Homo sapiens: one gene and its partners. The protein of the gene in region 1 interacts with the protein of each later gene in a pairwise test. Each region holds a gene or a part of one and is shown in the gene's direction. Other genes may lie near its edges.

Region 1 (9,373 bases):
ATACATTCACAAAGTAATAATCAAGAGTCTAAAAGATTATACAATAAAAATTCTTCTCTCGTCCCTGTCTGCCTTCCATCTGGCTCCCTCCAGAGGTAAACAGTGTGACCAGCAACTAGTGTATCCTTTTAGAGACTTTATGCACATATAAGCAAATATATGTTTGTTTTTTCCTATTATCACTTTTACAACCAAAATACAATAAAACTACCTTGATTTTGAAGAAAAGGCTGTAGAAGACTCTTTGATTATATAAAAAGATGAAAAGTGAAAAACAGAGGCTAGAAAACTACATACAGTGTGACATTTTATATGAAATTATATAAAGTATATATATTATTTTAAAATATATAAAATATATATTTAAAATGTAAAGAGAGACAAAAGCTATAATCCAAATGTGTGGGCAATTATCTCTGTGTCTAAAGTTTTAGGTGAGTTTATTTGCTGTCTTTTTTTTTTTTTTTTTGCAACAGAGCCTCGCCCTGTTGCCCAGGCTGGAGTGCAGTAGCACGATCTCGGCTCACGGCAACCTCCACCTCCCAGATTCAAGCAATTCTCCTGCCTTAGACCCCTGAGTAGCTGGGATTACAGGCACGTGCCACCACGCCTGGCTAATTTTTGTATTTTTAGTAGAGACAGGGTTTCATCATATTGGCCAGGCTGGTTTCGCACTCCCGACCCTGTTATCCACCCGCCTCAGCCTCCCAAAGTGCTGGGATTACAGGTGTGAGCCACCGCACCCAGCCTGAAAACTAAGGTTTTCCATTAAATTTGGTGCCAAAACTTACCTGATCTTGTGATGTTTATTCTTTTCGGTGTCAATATTCATAATAAGCTGCAAGATATCAATGTTTGAATATAGGGTACTGCCCCAGATCCCACTGGGAGAATTGGGAGAGTTGGCAAATGCATCATCTTACCTTCCTAAAATTATGAAAAATTCTGAATTCTGAAACACACTTGGAACCAAATGTTTTGAATAAGGGATTGTGACTTGGAAAGCAAATTCAGATGCTGCACACAGCAGAGGCCGGGGGTGCCCATCCCCAGGCTGGGATTCACGTTGCCCTGCCTAAGGTGTCAGGTCCTTGGGAGCCTTTATGAATCTGAAGCTGAATATAATCAGAAGGCATCAAGGAGTATATACTGGAGGTATGTCTCCTAAATCAGTACTCTTCACTTGTAATGAATGTGTCTCTGAATCTCCCAGGGATCTCGTAAAAATGCAAATTCTGCCTCCGTAGGTCTGGAGTGGGTCTGAGATTTTGCATTTCTGTTTTTCTTTCTTTCTTTCTTTCTTTCTTTCTTTCTTTCTTTTTTTTTTTTTTTTTTTTTTTTTGAGACGTAGTCTCGCTCTGTTGCCCAGGCTGGAGTGCAATGGCACAATTTTGGCTCACTGCAATCTCCACCTCCCAGGTTCAAGCGATTCTCCTGCTTCAGCCTCCCGAGTAGCTGGGATTACAGGTGTCCATTACCACACCCAGCTGATTTTTGTATTTTTAGTACAGATGGGGTTTCACCATGTTGCCCAGGCTAGTCTCGAACTCCTGACCCCAAGGGATCTGCCTGCCTCAGCTTCCCAAAGAGCCAGGATTACAGGTGTTAGCCACCATGCCCGGCCAGATTTTGCATTTCTAACAATCTCTAAGTGATGCCTATGCTGCCGGAACTGTCCTAAATGCTAGACAAGCCTCAGGCAAGGCTCTGAGTGATGATGACATGGTGGCCCCCTAGGGAGAGTTGCCCTCTGCCCTTGACTGGGGCCTGCTAAACACTGACCATGCCGGATTCTAAACCTGCTGCACTCATCACCTTTTCTCCATCCTTCTGCCCTCTGCCACCTCTTCCTTCCCAGATGAGTTAAAACCACCCCACGCCTCTGCTCCAGACATTGGCTGGGCTCCACCGAGTCTCATGACTCTTCACTCACCCGGGTCTAAGGTACTGCTTAGGTGAGGTGCTTTTCCAGATGGCTGATCTTGCCCCCACAAGCATGAACTTTATAAATTAGTTTAACTCTCAAGTTCCTGAGATGCCTCACTATCTCTCCCGGGTATCTCCCTGGAAAAATTTTTCACTGTTGGCAAAGCACTCCTTAGCCTGACCACCCACAGACATTATGATAATGCATAGACTCACTAGACAATTAGTGACCTGGAAAAAAGCCATGACTTTTTAAATTTTATTTTATTTTTCTGAGACAGAGTTTCGCTCTTGTCGCCCAGGCTGGAGTGCAATGGCGCGATCTCGGCCCACTGCAACCTCCGCCTCCTAGGTTCAAGTGATTCTCCTGCCTCAGCCTGCAGAGTAGCTGGGATTACAGGCACCCACCACCATGCCTGGCTAATTTCTGTATTTTTAGTAGAGACGGGGTTTCACCATGTTGGCCAGGCTGGCCTCGAACTCCTGACCTCAAGTGATCTGCCTGCCTCGGCCTCCCAAAGTGCTGGGATTACAGGCCATGCCTGGCTATGACTTATTTTATTTTTATTTCAATGCTTACAATGTCATGACTGACTTCTTACCTGCCCTACCTGCTTATCTTTTTAAGTTCTGGATACCCTGGTTGCAGAAAACTCAGACTTAACTTACTTTCTAAGTGAACTTTCTTACTACAAAAGTAATACATATTTGAGAACTTGGAAAATGTAAGCAAGAAGAAAGCGAAAACATGAGTGGCCATCACCCAGAGATAAAATTGTGACATTTTGCCTCATGGTCTTGCAGTCTTTATACATAAATTATGCTTTACAAAATCTGGCTTATGCTACATTCTCTCTTTCTTTCCTTTTCTTTTCTTTTCCTTCCCCTCCCTCCCTCCCTCCCTTCCTTCCTTCCTCCTTCCCTCCCTTCCTTTCTTCCTCCCTCCCTCCCTTCCTTCCTTCTTCTTTCCTTCCTTCCTTCTCCCTCTCTTTTCTTCTTTTCTTTCTTTTTTTCTTTTCTATCTTTCACAGGGTCTTTGCTCTGTTGCCCAGGCTAGAGTGCAGTGGTGCAATCTGGGCTCACTGCAGCCTTGACTTTCTGGGCTCAAGTGATCCTCCCACTTCAGCCTTCTGAGTATCTGAGACAACAGGCATGTGCCACCACGCCCAGCTAATTTTTTATTTTTTTATTTTTTGTAGCAATGGGGTCGCTAGTCTTGAACTCCTGGGCTCAAGCAATCCTCCAACCTCGGCCTCCCAAAGTGCTGGGATTATAGGCATGTGCCCAGCCAACATGCACCGTTTTTTTGTTTTGTTTTGTTTTGGTTTTGGTTTGTTTGTTTGTGTTTTTTTTGAGATGGATTCTCTCTCTGTTGCCTGGGCTGGAATGCAGTGGTGCAATCTCGGCTCACTGCAACCTCCGCCTCCCAGGTTCAAGCGATTCTCCTGCCTCCTTAGCCTCCCAAGTAGCTGGGATTACAGGCACCTGCCACCACGCCCAGCTAAGTTTTTTTTTTTTTTGTATTTTTTAGTAGAGACGGGGTTTCAACATATTGGCCAGGCTGGTCTCAAACTCCTGACCTTGTGATCCGCCTGCCTCGGCCTCCCAAAGTGCTGGGATTACAGGCGTAAGCCACCGTATCCGGCCAACATGCACCATTTTTAAGCTGCTTTCCCCCTCCATTTACAGTATACTGTGACCATTTTTAAAAGTCAATGAAAATCTTTCTATATCATTTTAAATGATTATGTAGTTTTTCACCTAATTGATGGGGTTTTGGAGTGTTTTCAATCATTTGTGATTAAAATAAAACTGCAATGAATATCCTCACTCAACCAAAATATATCTTTTTGATGCTTCTGGGGAATTACATGATTAGGTCAAAGTAGATGAACTTCTTTATGTTTTCTTATGTTGCCAAGCCAGAAAGCGTGACTTCCAAACTCTCAAATACAAACCAGGTTCTTTGGACTAAATCAGTGTCTCGAATCCCCAGTAACCTCAGTTAACCAGTAGTGACACCGAAAAGCAGGGAATTCCAGAGCTGAGAGGAACTTTGAGGCCATCGGTGATCATATACCTCGTCTCCAGCTCAGAAAGAGGAGAATTACTTAGACATTTTCTTTAGAGATCTAAAACTTCCCAAAGTCCACAGTTTTATTTTCACACAATTCTAGGCTAACTTAAAATCAGCATTTTTGCATTATTCTTTCATTCAATATTTATATATTTATAATGAGGGGGTTAGATCAATAGGGGATTGGTGAAGTGATTTATGGTACAGCCATTCAATGAAATCTGATACAACCATTAAAAAACCGAAGAAGGTCTTCTTTTTTTTTTTTTGCTCTGTCGCCCAGGCTGGAGTGCAGTGGTACAATCTCAGCTCACTGCAACCTCTGCCTCCCAGGTTCAAGCGATTCTCCTGCCTCAGCCTCCTGAGTAGCTGGGACTACAGGTGTGCACCATGACGCCGGCTAATTTTTGTATTTTTAGTAGAGACGGGGTTTCACCATGTTGGCCAGGCTGGTCTTGAACTCCTGACCTCAAGTGATCCACCCGCCTTGGCCTCCCAAAGTGCTGGGATTACAGGTGTGAGTCACAGCGCTGGGCCAAAAACCGAAGAAGGTCTTTATGTACTAATACAGAATGATATCTCAAATACATCATCAAATGAAAAAAGAAAAATGCAGAACAGTGTACATAATATGCACATTTGTGTAAAAAGGAGGTAAAGGAATACATAGATGTTTTGCCATGGACATGCTGTTTGTGTATGTATAAAACATCTTTGGAAAGATACACAACAAACTGATAGTATAATACTTTGATTTCCAGGGAAACTAGGTGGCTGCGAAGAGACAGTTTTCACTGTGAAATCAAACCATTCACATGCTCAACCATGTAAATATATTACCTATTTAAAAATCAAATGTGGGCACGGTGGCTCAAGTGTAATCTTAGCACTTTTGGCAAGTGGATTGCTGGAGCCCAGGAGTTTGAGACCAGCCTAGGCAACCTGGAGAAACCCCATCTCTACAAGAAATACAAAAATTAGCCAGCCACGGTGGCATGCACCTGTAGTCCTAGGTACTCAGGAGGCGGAGGTGGGAAGACTGCTTGACCCCAGGAGGTTGAGGCTGCAGTGAGCTGTGATCGTGCCACCGCACCCCAGCCTGGATGATAGAGTGAGACTCTGTCTCAAAATAAATCAATACATAAAAATTAATGTAAAAAAACACAAAATGCGGGGACTAGGGCATTTGATTACATCACCAAGCAGATACATTTATTTACTTGTTTATTTCTCAAGTATGGCTGAAAATGTCAGTAAAGAAATAAGGGGCCAGGCGCGGTGGCTCATGCCTGTAATCTCAGCACTTTGGGAGGTCGAGGCAGGTGGATCACCTGAGGTCAGGAGTTTGAGACCAGCCTGGCCAACAAGGCGAAATCCTGTCTCTACTAAGAATGTAAAAATTAGCCGGGCATGGTAGCGCGCACCTGTAGTCCCAGTTACTCGGGAGGCCGTGGCAGGAGAATTGCTGGAACCAGGGAGGTGGGGGTTACAGTGAGCCAGTATCGCCCCACTGCACTCTAGCCTGGGCGACAGAGCAAAACTACGTCTTAAAAAAAAAAAAAAAAAAGAAAGAAAAAAAAAAAGAAAGAAAGAGAGAGAGAAAGAAAAGAGGACCATAGGTACAAAAAGAATTTGAGCGGGAACAAAAGATGGGCCACGTGAACAGACCGGTTATAACAATAATAGTTCTGGTTAACATTTAGCGAGTTACTGTCTGCCAGGCCCTGTGTTATTACGCGATCTCGACACGTATTACCTCATTTAATCTACAGATCAAGTAGGTAGGTTATTATGGCCATTTTCAGGTGAGGAAACTGAGGCTGGCAGAAGTTAATTAATTTGCTCAAGTCTCCATCGGTAGTTAAACGGAGTTTGGATTCTCAGTGAGGGCTGAACTCTGACCTAGAAGTGTGCCTTGCTTGAGAACCCTGGCTCTTCAGGCAGACGCTCAACCGTCTCCCGACTATTTTTCTGCTGTATTAGTGGCCGCTTTTGTCAGTATTTTGCAAGAGCTATCTGTATTTTGGTTACAGGGACTCAGCATAGGGAAGGATCCATCTCGGCAGAAGCCAGGAGTCGAGGCAGGTCAGCGCACAGAGGACAGTGGAATCCGAGGGGATGGCAGGAGATCAATCGGACCCAGAACAGAGGCCTGCAAGGATGAGCGCACTTGATCCCCTCAGAGAAAAAGCCAGAGTGACTCACAGGAGAAAGACAAAGCAACCAAAGCTTCCAGGGTGTACAGGAGGTCCAAAGTCACCAGAAGGAAGAAGAAAACCTGAAACAGCGAGAGCTGGCCAAACGCTGCTAAGACCTATGCAAATAAGACCCACCCACGCTACCTGGAAATCGGGCCTGGGAAGTCAGAAAACAAAGCACATGCGTGCAGGGCTGCACGAACGGAGGCGGAGGAGGCGGCTCCGAGGGAGCAGGTAAGGAGACAGAGAGGGTCGCGGAGGGACGGGTCACAGGGCTCCAGAGTCCAGAGAGGCAGCAGCCGTGCAGCGCGCGACAGGTGAACTCTGGCCTGGGAGGGCAGGCTACTGGGTTCATCTTTCAAACTCAGCCACTCTTTAGCTGGGAAGACTTCGGCAAGTTGCCTCACCCTTCTGAGCCTTGGCTTCCCCATCTAGAAAATGGGTCTAAAAATAATCATGCTAACTCTGTATTGAGCGCCTTCCGTATTCTACTGGGCACCGTATAGACTATTCCTTCCCCAGAGCAACCTTGTAGGAGTGGGATGATTAGCCTTTTTTACAGAGGAAAATGAAGTTCAGAGAGGTTAAGCCATTTGTCCAAGACAAATTGTTCCAAATCTGGTTCCAAAGCCGGCACCTTTCTACTCCCCATTCAGCCTCTCTCACAGGGTGGTTTTAGAGTATCAAATGGCTTTCTGCAAACAACAACAAAAAATCCCAAAAGGCTAGTAACCTATCTAGATGGATCACCACACTTAGATCTTAGCAAGGGCCAGGGCCCTTTGTAAACTGTGAAGTGCTATGGAAATGCCAGTTCTTGGTTGAAAACAATGGAGTGATGCTGGGGACAATTGATATTTGGCGATGACTTGTTCATAGACCAAGGAGATGACTTTGGGGCGGTGTTTAGGATTTACTGTAGCTGAGATGTCCTGGCTTGGGGTGGAGGTGATACATGGCCAGAATCTCTCCCCAGCTGATCCTGAAACAGCAGTGGATCCCTGGGAGAGCAGCACAGATAAAGATCCAGGCAATAATGATGCTTCCTCCTCTTGGACAGCCTTTTACAGTTCTGGCCATGGAACTTCAGAGAAGGTAGGTCTGATTTGGGGGGAAACAGGAGATCTTGACGTGTAGTAATACAAGCTTACTGGATGGAGTAAAGTTAGAATTTTCAGGTAAGAGAATTAAAAAAAAAAAAAAAACTTATAATCTTGCCCCCAGAGATAACCACTGCTAATATCTGGTTGTTTATCTCTCCAGACATTTTTTCCATTGCACACACACTTTTGGAAATTGGATTATATGGTAATATGGTTTTGTTGCTGGTTCTTTTTCGCTTAATGACATTATATCCTAGGTATATATCCATATTAATAGTTTTACCACATCATATTAAAGGCTGCATAATATCTCTTCCTATGGATGGAGCAGAATCTACTTAATCAATGTCCTATTACTGGATGATGACGTAGTTCTCCATACGTCACCGTTAAACCAGCGCCTGGATGGGCATCTCTTTACTCACATCTTTGCAGAAGTCCTTGATGGTTTCCGTGGAATCGATTCCCAGTGGGGGAAATGATGAGTCAAGGTTACATACAGTTTACGGCCTCTGGTAAGTATTAAAGATCTGCTTCTAACACACTCTGGGATTCAGGGGCTTCTCAAAGCTTGATGCAGAGGACTTTGTCACGGCTTTGAAATCAACCTTGACCCTTCCTTTCTCTCAAATCCATTTGCATTAATAATTTCAACTGCCTCATATATCCATAACAATGTTTTGATCAACAGTGAATTACATATGTGATGGTGGCCACCTAAGATTATAATACCATATATTTACCTTGCCTTTTCTAAGTTTATGTTGAAAGACACACGCAATTATCATTGTGTTACAATTGCCTACAGTGTTCAGAACATAATAAGCTGTATGGGTTTGTAGCCTAGGAGCAACAGGCTAGACCGTATAGCCTAGGCATGTAGCAGGCTCTACCATCTAGGTTTGTGTAAATACTCTCTGTGCTGTTCATACAACGATGTGTTTCTGAGAACATAGTCCCATTTTTAGGTCATGCATTGCTTTGTGGTCTTTACTGGGTGCTGGGCTCTAACTAAAAGCTTTACTAGTTTTGGCTTCCTTTGCACAAGGAGAAATAGAGGCACAGAGAGGTCAAGCAATTCAACTGGAATCACAGCCCTAAATAGCCATGGATCTGGCATCATGAACCTTGACAGAAACTACAACTGGATCCCTAGAACTCCACTGCTTCTTGGGAAGTGGCTTTGATTCTGTCCCCAAAGATATCACTTATCCCATCCCCTTTTATCTCCTCTGCCACTGCCTAACCTGCACCACCATCACACGCCTGAGCCACACTGCTGCAGCCCGAACGGGTGTTCCCTTCCCGATCTTATCCCTCTCAGCCTGTCCTCTGCTCTGCAGCTAGAATGGTGTTTTAAAAATGGAAATAGGATCAGGTACCTTACCCTACCGCTCACCCCTGGAATAAAATCCAGATGAGCTCCTGAGTTCACAGGTCCCGAGTACTATACCCTCCCACCTTGCCTACTCCGGTCACCACACCTTGATCACCCTGGGCTCCTTTCACTTTCTCAAATTGGAAGAGCTTTTCTCACCTCGGGGCCACACATGCTGTTCCCTGGGCCTGCAACGCTCTTCCTCCACTGTGCGTGGCTGGATTCCTATATACTTTGGTCTCAGCTCTTCTGTCATCTCTTTGCAGAAACCTTCTCTGGTGGTCTCATTGGGAGCAGCCACCAAGCACCCGAAGCCCATTTTCCTTTTTGCCCTTTATTAACAACCATTAAAATTGTGTATTTATTTATTGCCCATTATTCATTAAATGTCTTTTTGCCTCACTACACTCTAAATGTCATGAGGTCAAAGACAATGTCTATTTTGTTCACCATAATACCTTGCACAGCACCTGGGCTAGAGTAAGCACTCAATAATGTCCGAGTGGATGAATGGACTGCAGAATAAAGCACTGGTGCAGAGCCCTGCTAAACTACCCTAGTTTCGCTTAGGGCTCCATCTCCCTCTGCATATCTTCATTTCCTCCTTCCCTGTTTGGAGCAGTGCCAGAGGTCTAGAAGAAAACCAGGAAGCCACAGGTCCGAGAGTATAAGCAGGTTTTGCTTCAGACAT
Region 2 (8,202 bases), on another chromosome or scaffold:
CCTACAGGGGATATGTATTGAGTATTTGAAAGACTTCGGAAATAACTGTGATTGTTCCTTTACAAATGGATTTTAACTGCATGCTTTCATATGGCCTTGTTACTAGGTAATCAAATGTTCTGTGTTACTTCCCTGTATATTCTGGATTCAGATCTTTCTGAGTTTTATTTGTGGCTAGTATCTCCTAGTTGGTGATTATTTTTCACTCTTTGTGGTGTTTTGGTGAGCAGACATTATAAATTTTAATGCAGTTGAATTTATCATTTCTCATTATTTTTACAGACTCTTCCCTATCCTCATCTTAAAGATTTTCTTCCTAATCTAAAAGTTTTAAAGTTTTGTCTTTAATCCACTTTAATTTGATTTCTCTTCTATGGTAGGGACCAAATTTTATTTTTTCCACATAGGTTACTAATTGTCCCCGCACTGTTTATTGGAGCCTTTCCCCGCACTGATATGCAGTACCATATCTGACACATCAATTCTCTATATATGTTTGAGTCTGTTTCTGATGTCTCTAATCTAAATTAGTGTCACATTGTCATCTTTACTGTAGAAATGCTGTAGCTCTATAATAACTTAATATTTGTAGAGAAAGTGCCTAACTTTGTTTTCCCGCTTGGATCTTTTTTTTTTTTTTTTTTTTTTTTCAATTTGGCTGTTTGCCCTTTTAAAATATTTAGAATCAGCTTGTCAAATCTGATGAAGAATCCTTTTGTGGTTTATATTTGAATTGCGCTGAATGTGTGTGTTAGTTTAGGGGATAATTTATCATCTTATTCGTGAATATGATATATACCTCTGTTTAGCTCTTCTTCTGTATCTTTACATAAAACTTTGTATTTTCTTTGTGAAAAGATAATACATATTTTATAGGATTATTTCTTTGTACCATTTTTGTTGTTCTATTATAAATGGAATCCTTTTAAAATTTTAATTGTGACCAGCTTTGAAGAAGCATCTCTTATGACTTTTTCAGCTGATAAATTTTCCTGAAGATTATAGCAAAAGTACCAAATTTTGAGGGTATTAAAAAGCAGAAATTAATTGGGGTGTATCTTATCACATCTGTTTTTAGTAAGTGTGAAAAGGTCAATATTGTCCATTTATTTGTCTTTTCACTTAGAGATTGTGTGAGAGAACTAATATTCATAGACCCTGTTGACTCAGGTAGTTTTCAAAGTGTGTATGTGTTTAAGTGGTGTGTGTGACTTTTTTCTGAGACAGTGGTGAGAAAATTGACATTTTTACTCTTTAGAATAGTTCTTAGAAATGTATATTTAATATACTAGTTGAGGTCATTGTGTTCTATCAGGAAAAAAAATTGTTCTCTCTGCTTCCTTTTGTGTAATGTTCTTCTGTTTTTCTTTTTTTCACTTGACCAAATATCTAGCTTATTCTGTGTTTACTTCAAGTCGCATTTCCTTTCATGCCTTCCCAGACCATTTAATCCATAGTTATTTCCTCTTGTTAATTTCTAAATTCTTACAGATTCTACTTATAAACATAGAATGGCCTCCATATTGTATCATTAAATGCAGAGACCAAGGGCACAGTACAAAGGGTCCTATTTTAAAGATCTGTGTGTGTGTGTGTGTGTGTGTCTGTGTGTGTAAAAATTTTTGGAGGAATGCACTAAAAAATTTTTTTTATGATAGTTAACTTTTAAAACTGGGTCTGAAAGGTCTAAGATGGAAGGAAGAGTTTTACTTCATGTGCTTTTATACTATTTGAAAATTTTGCTATCTGCATGTATTACTATTTATTTTCAGGGTTATAGTGTTTATTAAGTATGTAACAGTAGGAGTTGGCTCAAAATTATCTGGAAAAATAAGAAGTAAACAAGATTGCCAAAATGTTGATGATAAGTGAAGCTAGATAATAGACCCATGGTGATTCATAACATTATTCTCTCCTTTTATGTATATTAGAATTTTTCACCATAAAATTTTAAAAATTAAACATTGATATATTCTAGCTATAATTTAGGTCTGAAATGGGCTTTGCAATTCGAAACACTTGTAAATGTATCAGGACACTAAAGATTCCTATTTTTTTATTGCTATATAATTCACCTACCACAAAATCATCCTTTAAAAAAGTATGTAATTTGGTGGTTTTTATTATATTCACAAGATTGTGCAGCCATCAGCAGTATCAAATTCCATATCACTTCCCAAAAAACCCACACTGATTATCAGTCATTGCCCCTCCTTCCCTATTCCCAGCCCCTGGCAACCATTATTGTGACATGTGTAACTACTTTATTTCTCTTTGTGGTTGAATAATATTCCACTCTATGGATTTACTACATTTTGTTTATCCGTTCATTAGTTGATGAATATTTGGGTTGTTTGTACTTTTTTGACTATGTATTCATTACTTGTTAAAGTTTAAATATGTAAGAAAAGACCTATGGTTTTTGTTTGTGTTTTAGGTGGGGGGAAATGATTCTATTTTTATTCTCAAAACCGTTTTTGAAAAACTTTACTGCTAATAAATTATGAGGTTTTGGAACATACACTGTACAGTTTCATTAAAAGTAAAATTCTTGTGTCATTTAAGTAGAAATTGTTTGTATTTTAGATAACATTTGGTCAGCCAGGCTTGGACATTCAGAGCAGAAGTATGGAATACGTACAGCGGCAAATATCCAAGGAATGTGGAAGCCTAAAGTCCCAAAATAGGGTAAGTAATGTTAGTTTATCTTGTGATATGGAATTTAACTAATTAATAGATAGGTAAAGTTTTCCAGTCTTTCTAATTCTCCATATAGTTGAATTGTACTAGAAAATTTTTCATTGTATAAATTTGCTGCCTATGTGCTTAAACGCTGTTAGTTAAAAACTCTGCAAACTTCTCATTTGAGTCTAAAAGATTGCCAGAGCTGCATTTATTAGATAGGACCAAAAGGAATTATATATTGTTAATTAAATAAACTGTATCTGTCACCCCACCTTTAGCTCAGACCTAGAATTTTCTTAGCCCTAATTCCATGTATCTAGGAAATAGAAGTTTGCCCCAAACTGAGTCAGATGCTTACTTGTAGTAGACTAGTCACTGTGTCCAGGGACTGGAGCTAAAGATACAAATTTGTCTACTTAGAAGCCTGCATTTATGGATGATGTAAGGGGTCAAAAGACTTAATTTTGTTCTTTGGCCTCAAAGAACCAACCTTCCCAGAAGGGTTGTGGAAGTAGGGGTATTTTACGTCATTGTTCAGAGACTTTTTGTGTACCCAAGCTACACACATGTGTGTCTTTGTATTAATTTGCTAGGACTCCCACAACAAAATATTACAGACTGGGTAGCTTCAACAACAGAAATTTATTTTCTCACAATTCTTAGAAGTTCAAGATCAAGGTTGTTGGTAGGTTTGGTTTCTTCTGAGGCCTTTCTTCTTGGCTTGCAGGTAGCTGCCCTCACATGGTCTTTCCTCACTTTGCCCTCACATGCTCTTTCCTCTGCCCGTACATCCCTGGTGTCTTTCTCTGTGTGTCCAAATTTCCTCATAAAGAAAACAGTCAGATTGGATTAAAGTCTCTCTTAAGGGCCACATTTTAACTTAGTCACCTCTTAAAAGGCTCTATATCCAAATACAGTCGCATTACTGGAGGTTAGGGCTTCAGCATATGAATTTGAAGAGGACATAAGTCAGACCATAACATTTTGTCCTTTGTTCCCAAAATCATGCCCTTCTCACTTGCAAAATACATTCATCCTTATCCTAACAGCCCCAAAGACATAACCCATTCCAGCATCAACTCTTAAGTCCCAAATCTCATCTAAATAACGTCTTTCAATCAAGTGTGGGTAAGTGGCTCATGCAATAGTAGAGGTACAGATCCAAAACAGGGTAGGCTGTCTGGAGACCCAAGAAATAGTTGTAGTCTGAGTCCAAAGGCACCCTGCTGGCAGAATTTCTTCTTGCTCAGGGGGAGCTCAGTCTTAGTTCTAGTAAAGCCTTCAACTGATTTTATGAGGTCCGCCTATACCACAGAAGGTACTGTGCTTTCCTCATAGTCCACCAACTGAAATGTTGATCTCATCCCAAAAACATATCATAGAAATGTCCAGAATAATATTTCAACAAATATCTGGACACTGGCCCCACCAAGGTGACACGTAAAATTAACCATCATAGCCCTCATTGCAGTTTTTATCTGTTTCTTTTTTAGGTCCCTTTGAAATCAATCAGACATGTCAGCTTTCAAGATGAGGATGAGATTGTCAGAATAAACCCTCGAGATATCTTAATACGTCGCTATGCAGACTACAGACATCCTGACATGTGGAAAAATGACTTGGAAAGAGATGATGCTGATTCCAGTATTCAGTTTTCTAAACCAGACAGTAAAAAATCAGACTATCTGTACTCTTGTGGGGATGAGACTAAGTTAAGTTCACCCAAAGACTCTGTGGTATTTAAGACGCAGCCTTCCTCATTAAAAATTAAGAAGTCAAAACGAAGAAAAGAGGATGGTGAACGTTCTCGCTGCGTATACTGCCAGGAAAGGTTTAATCATGAAGAAAATGTTAGGGGAAAATGTCAGGATGCTCCAGACCCTATTAAAAGATGCATATATCAAGTTAGTTGCATGCTCTGTGCAGAGAGCATGTTGTATCATTGTATGTCAGACTCAGAGGGAGATTTTTCTGATCCCTGTTCGTGTGACACTAGCGACGACAAGTTCTGCTTGCGATGGTTAGCCCTGGTAGCTTTGTCTTTCATTGTACCATGTATGTGCTGCTACGTCCCTTTGAGAATGTGCCATCGCTGTGGTGAGGCATGTGGTTGCTGTGGTGGGAAACATAAAGCTGCTGGATGAAATGGTCCAGTGCCAAAATGAGCTTAAAATCTTTGTTTCCAGGAATTAGCTAACTTGGATTTGTGGAAGCTTTTGGCAAGCAATATGGAATCTTGCCTGGTATCATTGAGCCCACACATGGAGGAAGCAGAACTCATCAGTTCTTGGCGTTTCACGCCATGCCTAACTTTTCCCTTGAGTGCATGGCATGTTTTGTTACAGGTTGTAGAGTATTTGCAGAAGGAAACCATTTCTGGTTATTTGGCTATAAAAAGTCAGCATAAAATATGATCCAACTAAAAGGGATTAATTTTTGGCATTTTTGTATATTTATGCATTAGGTGATGGGACTTTTAAAGGTTTGAATTTATTAGGACACGAACTAAAAATAAAAGTGCACTAGGGGACAGTTGATTTCAATCTAAGAAAAGTTAACACTTGGGAATTACAAGAAGTAAAACAAGTGCAACTAAATCATTTATTAGTTGTTTTTTGAAAGCAGTTTTATGTATAAATAACAAATGTTTATATTTAACTAAATGTAAGGTACGAATTATTACATATTAAACTTTTCTTCCCCTTCCTAGTTCTGAAGTAGATATATATATATATATATCTACTGTCACATTCCATATATTTTGAATATTTAACTCATCTAGTTAATAATGTTTTTATTCCATGCGAATGATTTGATATTTTCATCCTTATTTCTCTTTGGCTACAATTTATATTGAGTTATATCTGTACATTCTGGTAATCTAAAATCCTTAAAAATACTCTAATAGCCTTGAGTGACCAACTTTTTTTTTAAAGCACAGATGTAATTGTCTAATGTTCTGATGGGAACGTAACACTTATTTTTATATAAAAAGAGACTGAGTAAACAAACATTATAGAAAAAAAGTGAAGTTTTTTAGTTGTTTTTTGTGGTATTCAACCAGCAAGTTGTTTTCTTTCAGAGTTTCCTCCTTCAAAAAGTTATATTGCATTTACAAATGTTTTACAAGGCAGAAAGTTTGACTGGATAGTTAGTGTAAAAGCTTCATGTTGAGATCTTCACGTATCATTCTGCTAAACCAGAATATGTTCAGCTGTGTTACTAATTTTTCAGCTTAATCCTCAGTGCTTATTATTTACATAACAATAACTTTTTATCAGTTACATTTTATTTTTATTTAAACTGGCCAAAAGCAAAATTATTTTATGTTAAAATGTGTGCTAAACTATCCCAGGAAAGTATTTAATCCAACATTGTAAATGAAGTATCTTGTACATATAAATTTATTTCTTTTGCAGAGCATTATATTACTGGATGTTTAATTTACAAAATAGTTGGGTAAATGTTCCAACAAACTTTAAAGTACCTTGAAGTCAAATTGTCTGTTTTTGTTTTGTTGTTGTTGTTGTTGTTTTCTTAAGTGTTACATTAAAACTCTAACCAAGGAAAGGGTTCTTTAAGAACATTCCCTTAGAGGGATAAAGTTGAGAAGTGTGCCTTTTTTTTAATGGCTTGAAGTTTCAGAGGTGATAAAAATTAAAATCACACTACTATTTGAAGCTCATTTTCTATGCAGGTTTTTAAACGTCATTTATGTATCATTCTTTTTATATATCACACTTAAGCTTGTGTTAGCTTTTTTCTTTTGCCCCAGATCAAACTGAACAATGTATATAACACTATCTGTCTGTAAAATACTTTTTTTAAGAAAGCATTTATATTTATATGACAGCTTGAACTGACAACATTGTGTATATAGATCATCTTGAAGTATTATTTCACATTGAAAAGAAGAAAATATATTGATAACTATAGATGTTATGAAGAAGAGGGTATTTCTAGTTTTGTACTAAAAATCAATTGGATGAACTAAATCCAAAACATGACACTGTAGGCAGCAGTTTTAAGTCTTATTTTTACTGTTTATATATTTGAATGCTGCTACAACAGATGATCTTCATCCCTGAAGTTTTCAGCTAAACTTGGTTTCCTAGAATAGACTGTTAACTTTCAAAATTTTTATTGGTGAAATGGAAATACTGTTTTTCCTTGTGAATGAATTTTCATATTTGTAAGTGCTAAGTTTATAATTCAGGTTTGATCAAGGTGTGAATAACTGAAGAAAATAACTTGCTGGCTATATAGGAAAATGCTGTGGAAATGAACTGTGTATATACTTCTGGGAGGAACAAATTTAATCATTTCTTCTGTTAAGCACTAATCAGTATAGTGCAACTCCTGGTTCTGTACTGTATTTTATATGCAACATATATGCTTTAATATTTTAATGTTTGTGCATTAATATTTTCAATTTGTTTAACCACTTTGCTGCTAAGATTTTGCCGTCCCATTCCCATTTTTTCCTTTACAATTTTAAACAAGTTTCTTCATTAAAAACTATGGTGATGAAATGGTTTTTATTTTACCTTGGATCTTTATAGTTAACATACCCAGTTTCTTAATCAGTCTACAAGACTAACTGATGATATAATGTTCTCTGAATCCCTATATGGAAATTTTCTTTTGAGTAAATGAGAATTCCTTTGTGAAAGCAAATGGGTAGTTTAAATCACTGATTCTTAAACATGTGTATAGGCACCTTCAGGAACATTTTCTCATTCTCTGTACAGATTCGGCACTGCCAATTGGCTTTTCCTCTAAAACTTTTCTTTGTTTTTATCTGATATAAGCAGATGGCTCAAGACAACTGCTTGAGTAATAGTATTGAAAATGGAATCATCTAGACGGCATGACAAGCAAGACTGGTCTGATGAACTTGTTCAGAATTGATAATTCTTAAATATTTCTCTTGGCTTCAAAAGGGACATCATTTGATTTCTGAAGAAGTATGTCGTGTGGAGCTTCAGCACCACCTACTGGATGATTTCCAGGCCAGAGACATGAGATGGCAATAGGGATCTGACAGGGTTCATCACTACTACCATTAAAGGGCTATTTATGTGGTGACCACCTCTACCAGGGAAACCAGGAATAAGAACTGTCTCAAAGGAATTGTAAAATGGTTATTTACCTAATGTGTCTTGTTGGCTTGCTGAAAGATTTTAAGCACTTTTTTCTTACATATCCTGTTTTAAAATATTTGTTGATATTTGGGACTGGCAATCAAACTTAATGGATGTACTGAGGCATTTATAGAACCAGTTGCTTTAACTCTCAAAAGCCATTACCAAAATGGTATTTTTTTCCTCCTTCCGCCAGTCAGGGAGAATTTTTAAAAATAATAATCAAAACATGAAAAAACATAATCACACCTGTATTTTATCATGACAGCTTCAGAGAGTGTGTGTGTACGTTTTTCTCTCTTTTATTTGAGACGGAGTTTCACTCTTGTTGCCCAGGCTGGAGTGCAATGGTGCGATCTCAGCTCACTGCAAC
Region 3 (4,218 bases), on another chromosome or scaffold:
GCCAGGCTTAACCTAATACACATCTAACGTGTGTGCCACACGGCCAGTAGAAAGTTTAACTTCAGCTTCAGGGCAAAGATACCCACTCACACCGTGTCAACGCAAGCAGTAGTTCCTGGCCTCCAGAGCAGCTTACTTCCCCTGAAAGAACGCTTTGTTTTCCTTTATGCCCTTTTCCTGTTGACCACTTTTACACATTTAAATGTAATTTGTTGTGAGAATAAATTTAGCTGCATAAAACGTTCGGCTCATTTATCTGACATCTTAGTCACATATACAAGGAATAGAAATAGAAACTCGGTGTCTCTAGTTATTTTTAAATTATTCTTACCTCAGACTTCTTAGAAATCACTTTAGTAATGGAGCATTTTGCTTTGATTAGTTACTACATATTTCTGCCTGGTAAGAACTAGGAAGTAACTTCAAATTTTGAGTAATCACCCTGTACTTATTTGGTGATCAGGAAGGCCAGCTGGCCTTCCGGACATAGAAGCCTATTTAGTCACCAACTCGAGTCTTTTGTAAGCGGTCTTGCTAGGATTGTGATATTTTAGCACGAAGAAGTTTATCACTTCCTTTAAGAACCTGACATCAAAGAATAAAGAATAGAGGTGTACACACACTAAATCCAAAATGAAAGGTAACTAGAGAAATCAGTTGAATCTGGTTTAGCTTAACTGTTAGGCGCAGGAAGGCAGATAAACAGAATTTAAAGTATGTCCCCGCTTTTTGTTCATCTTGCACTTCCACAGTGGTTTCTCTCTAGTCAGTAACAAAATTTCATTATGGTTTCAGGCATTATATGGTGGTAAATAATTTCAGATTAAAAATGTGTTTGCTATTGGAGTATCTGAATACTAGTAATTTCATTATTTAGAATTTTGCAGCACTTTTATCTCAAGAAGAAGTCCAAGAATGTAAAATGCCAAATGAAACATGTCAGTGGAATCAATATTCTCCTTCATTAGAATTCCCTCATATTGCTTTTTTTTTTTTTCTTCAGACAGAGGAGTCTTACTCTGGAGTGCAGTGGTGTAATTTCAGCTCACCACAACCTCCACCTCCCAAGTTCAAGCAATTCTCGCCTCAGCCTCCTGAGTAGCTGGGATTACAGGCATGCACCGCCACGCCTGGCCAATTTGTATATTTTTAGTAGAGACAGGGTTTCGCCACGTTGGCCAGGCTGGTCTCGAACTCCTGACCTCAGGTGATCCGCCCGCCCCAACCTCCCAAAGTATGTGAGCCACCACGTCCGGCCTCATATTGCTTTTATCCAAAATTCTTTTCCCTTTTCACTCTACCAAAGTATTTAAATAATCCTGTCCTTCATAGAAGATTCTCAAAGAAGAAAACTGCAGTGTAATTAATGAATGGTTTAATTCAGAATCTTCATATACTTCTAAAGAGAAAAATAATTTAGTGCCAAATGCATGTTAGGAGATAATCAATGTAAGTGGCAACAAATTGTGACTTCACATGCTACTGTAGAGATCAGAAAATTATCCTAAACTATTCCATAACAATGAGACAACATCACAGAAAATACACTTGAAAATAAAAATCTCAAGACCAGCTACTTCTGGACAATGGAATACTTTTCAGTCTGGTATGGTGGAGGGCCCGAAAAGGATAAGGGATTCTTATGATACACAATGGGATTCTTTACTGAACAATATGTTAAATTAAGCTGCACCGCCTTCCTTGAGGCATGGACTACCCTAACCAACCAGATAGAAATCTGGGTGGGATAAGAGGATGAGCCACACGCTATAATTTTAGGGCAAGGAGATAGTGTTTGATTTTCAAAATCAGCAAAATAAGCTGAGCACTTTATATCTTTCTGTACAAGAGTGATAACATGAAGAATTCTTCTTCAGGGATTTAAAATACAATAAGCCTGGTTCAACTATAAAAAGTCTTGTTTCCTTTCTTCATTGACACTTTTTTTTTTTTTTTTTTTTTTTTGAGGCAAGGTCTCACTCTGCTTCCCAGGCTGGAGTGCAGTGGGGCAATATTGGCTCACTGCAACCTGCACCTCCTGGACTCAAGAGATCCTCGTACCTCAGCCTCCTAAGTAGCTGGGACTACAGGCGTGTCCCACCACACCCAGCTAATTTTTGTATTTTTTGTAGAGATGGGGTTTTGGGGTTTCGCCATGTTGTCCAGGCTCGTCTGGAACTCCGGTGCTCAAGTGGCGTGCCCACCTCAGCCTCCCAAACTGCTGAGATTACAGATGTGAGCCACTGCACCCAGCCCACTGACACGTTTTACTGATAAATGTAAATCTAAGCTAAAATAAAAATAATGTATTACCGCTATAATACAATTCACCATTCTCTTTTCTCACTTCAAGTAAGAAAGTAAAAATAGAATATCAGAGCTGAAGTAGACCTAAGTATTCATCTTGAAGAAGATAATATTCTAAAAATCATGCCACCTGAATTGAGCATTTAGGAATTTATGTAACATTTCTATACAACTGAATTGCAAAAATAAAACTTTAAATTCAAACTTTATGAATATGTCTATGAATGTTTTTAAATAATAAGATATATAGTTGTATCTTAATTCTATTTAATGACAATTTCTGTTGCCATGATGAAAAATCAGTAGACCCAGAAATGATAATCATACCAATTTTTGGTAGGCAATTGAGAATACATTCAAGATGAATCGACATTTAATATAATTAATTAACATAGTGCTACAATATATTTAATTGTGCCTCAGAAATGATTTACCAAAGTTTGATTCCTGTGTGCTATTTGAAATGACTTGTAGATTTTGTTGTATCCCCTGATCTTAGAATCAGAAATTTGTGGGTTTCTTCAACAATAGGTATCGCTTGCATTCAACAGTTTTGCCTCTTCTTCAGAATTATTAATATTTAGATGGAAATTTGCTCACAGTCTTTTGTAACAGTGCTTGACATAGAGGAAGGGAGAGATGATTGTGTCCAGTCTGCTCAGGATCCTGGAAGCTCCCCCAGTGAGAGACACCTCACTGTAAAAGGAACTCTGAGCTACACACACCTGGCACTTGGGAACTTCCTGCGCTTCCTACTTAAACTCAACTTCAGTCACGTTACAAAAACTCATGTTCATTCCCTGTTCAAAGAACAGCTTGATATTTAAGAAAAAATCACCCTTGATCGTGACTGAGAAAGTCACGACTACAACCGCATGGATGCTGAAGAGCGGTCAGCTGGCGGGAGAGGCCAGGATCGTTTGCCTGTTTGGCTTTCTAATGAGCTACCTGCTGAAGGGAGGCAGTGTTTCCTTCCCTGCAGGGGAAACTTGGCAGCTTTAAGTCCAGCCTGAAAGTTCACAGGAGTGAGATAAGTTCTGACCGCTGATACTGAGTCTCTAACTGGATCCTCTCAGAGCAGCAGTGATTGGCTGAAGTCTCTGAATTCTGCTTTGCTGACTCCTACATTATTGTTTCTCACTTGTCTGAATTCTCTGAAAGTAATATCACACTTAGAAGATCCCTAGGTGACCAAAAGAATGAATATCTTGTGTAGAGATGTAGAATCTTCAGAGAAATACTAGACTTTGAAAAAAAATCAACTGCTCTTTGGCCCCTATAAAAAACACAAGACAATCAAAGCCATCGCCGAGGAGGCCTGAGTAGGGAGGAAGGTGTGTCATCTTTAGGCTTTTCCTCTTTTCTGGATAGTGAGTGTGTGGGAAGGCAGGTGGGCACAAGTGCCTTGGGTGCAACCCAACGACAGTACAAATGTTGAGTTGGCATCCGAGATCTGATCCCTTGGGGACTTGAAAATGGCATAAAGACTGGAGGCAGAACAATCTTGATGGGTTTCAGAGCAACCATTCTGTCTTCTGGCCGAGGTCTTAAGAAGTGTGTCTGCCGTTCACGCGGTCTGGAGGGACAAGTGTTCTTCACAAATGCAGGCACTGCAGGATGGGGGGCCAGCTTGTTGGGTTTTCTGGTCTGTGAGGAAGCCCCCACTTGAGCAGTATTTTTCTGGGGAAGAGGTGGTTTTGTTACAGTCTCTGATAGATTAGCACTGGCTTTAGTTTCTCGATTCAGGAACTCAGCAATTTTCATTTGGATGCCATTATCAGTAGTGGCACCTTTTGTCAATGATGTTTTTGATTTTTTCTTCTTCTTCTCCCGTTTTGATGATTTACCCAACTCAATCCCATCCAGCAGACCCTTGGCTGCAGCTCGGGCCAAAACATCATTCACAGACAC

What was found. The genes of interacting proteins can lie anywhere in the genome.
Region 2: the proteins of RNF183 (region 1) and SPRED1 interact in binary tests that used the Homo sapiens proteins (3 or more experiments, as listed by UniProt).
Region 3: the proteins of RNF183 (region 1) and APBB2 interact in binary tests that used the Homo sapiens proteins (3 or more experiments, as listed by UniProt).

The regions. Positions count from the first base shown.
Region 1 is NC_000009.12:113,300,118-113,309,490, reverse strand, and holds the start of RNF183 (E3 ubiquitin-protein ligase RNF183), read left to right. Parts: upstream 1-6,114; 5' UTR 6,115-6,435; intron 6,436-6,441; exon of another isoform or gene 6,442-7,177; 5' UTR 7,178-7,296; exon of another isoform or gene 7,297-7,739; 5' UTR 7,740-7,819; exon of another isoform or gene 7,820-9,373. UniProt on the Homo sapiens protein: Acts as an E3 ubiquitin ligase catalyzing the covalent attachment of ubiquitin moieties onto substrate proteins. Triggers apoptosis in response to prolonged ER stress by mediating the polyubiquitination and subsequent proteasomal degradation of BCL2L1.
Region 2 is NC_000015.10:38,346,836-38,355,037, forward strand, and holds part of SPRED1 (sprouty-related, EVH1 domain-containing protein 1), read left to right. Parts: intron 1-2,586; coding exon 2,587-2,688; intron 2,689-4,178; coding exon 4,179-4,829; 3' UTR 4,830-8,202. UniProt on the Homo sapiens protein: Tyrosine kinase substrate that inhibits growth-factor-mediated activation of MAP kinase. Negatively regulates hematopoiesis of bone marrow.
Region 3 is NC_000004.12:40,808,325-40,812,542, reverse strand, and holds the end of APBB2 (amyloid beta precursor protein binding family B member 2), read left to right. Parts: 3' UTR 1-2,516; downstream 2,517-4,218. Other genes in the region: putative methyltransferase NSUN7, read right to left, coding at 3,604-4,218. UniProt on the Homo sapiens protein: Plays a role in the maintenance of lens transparency, and may also play a role in muscle cell strength. Involved in hippocampal neurite branching and neuromuscular junction formation, as a result plays a role in spatial memory functioning.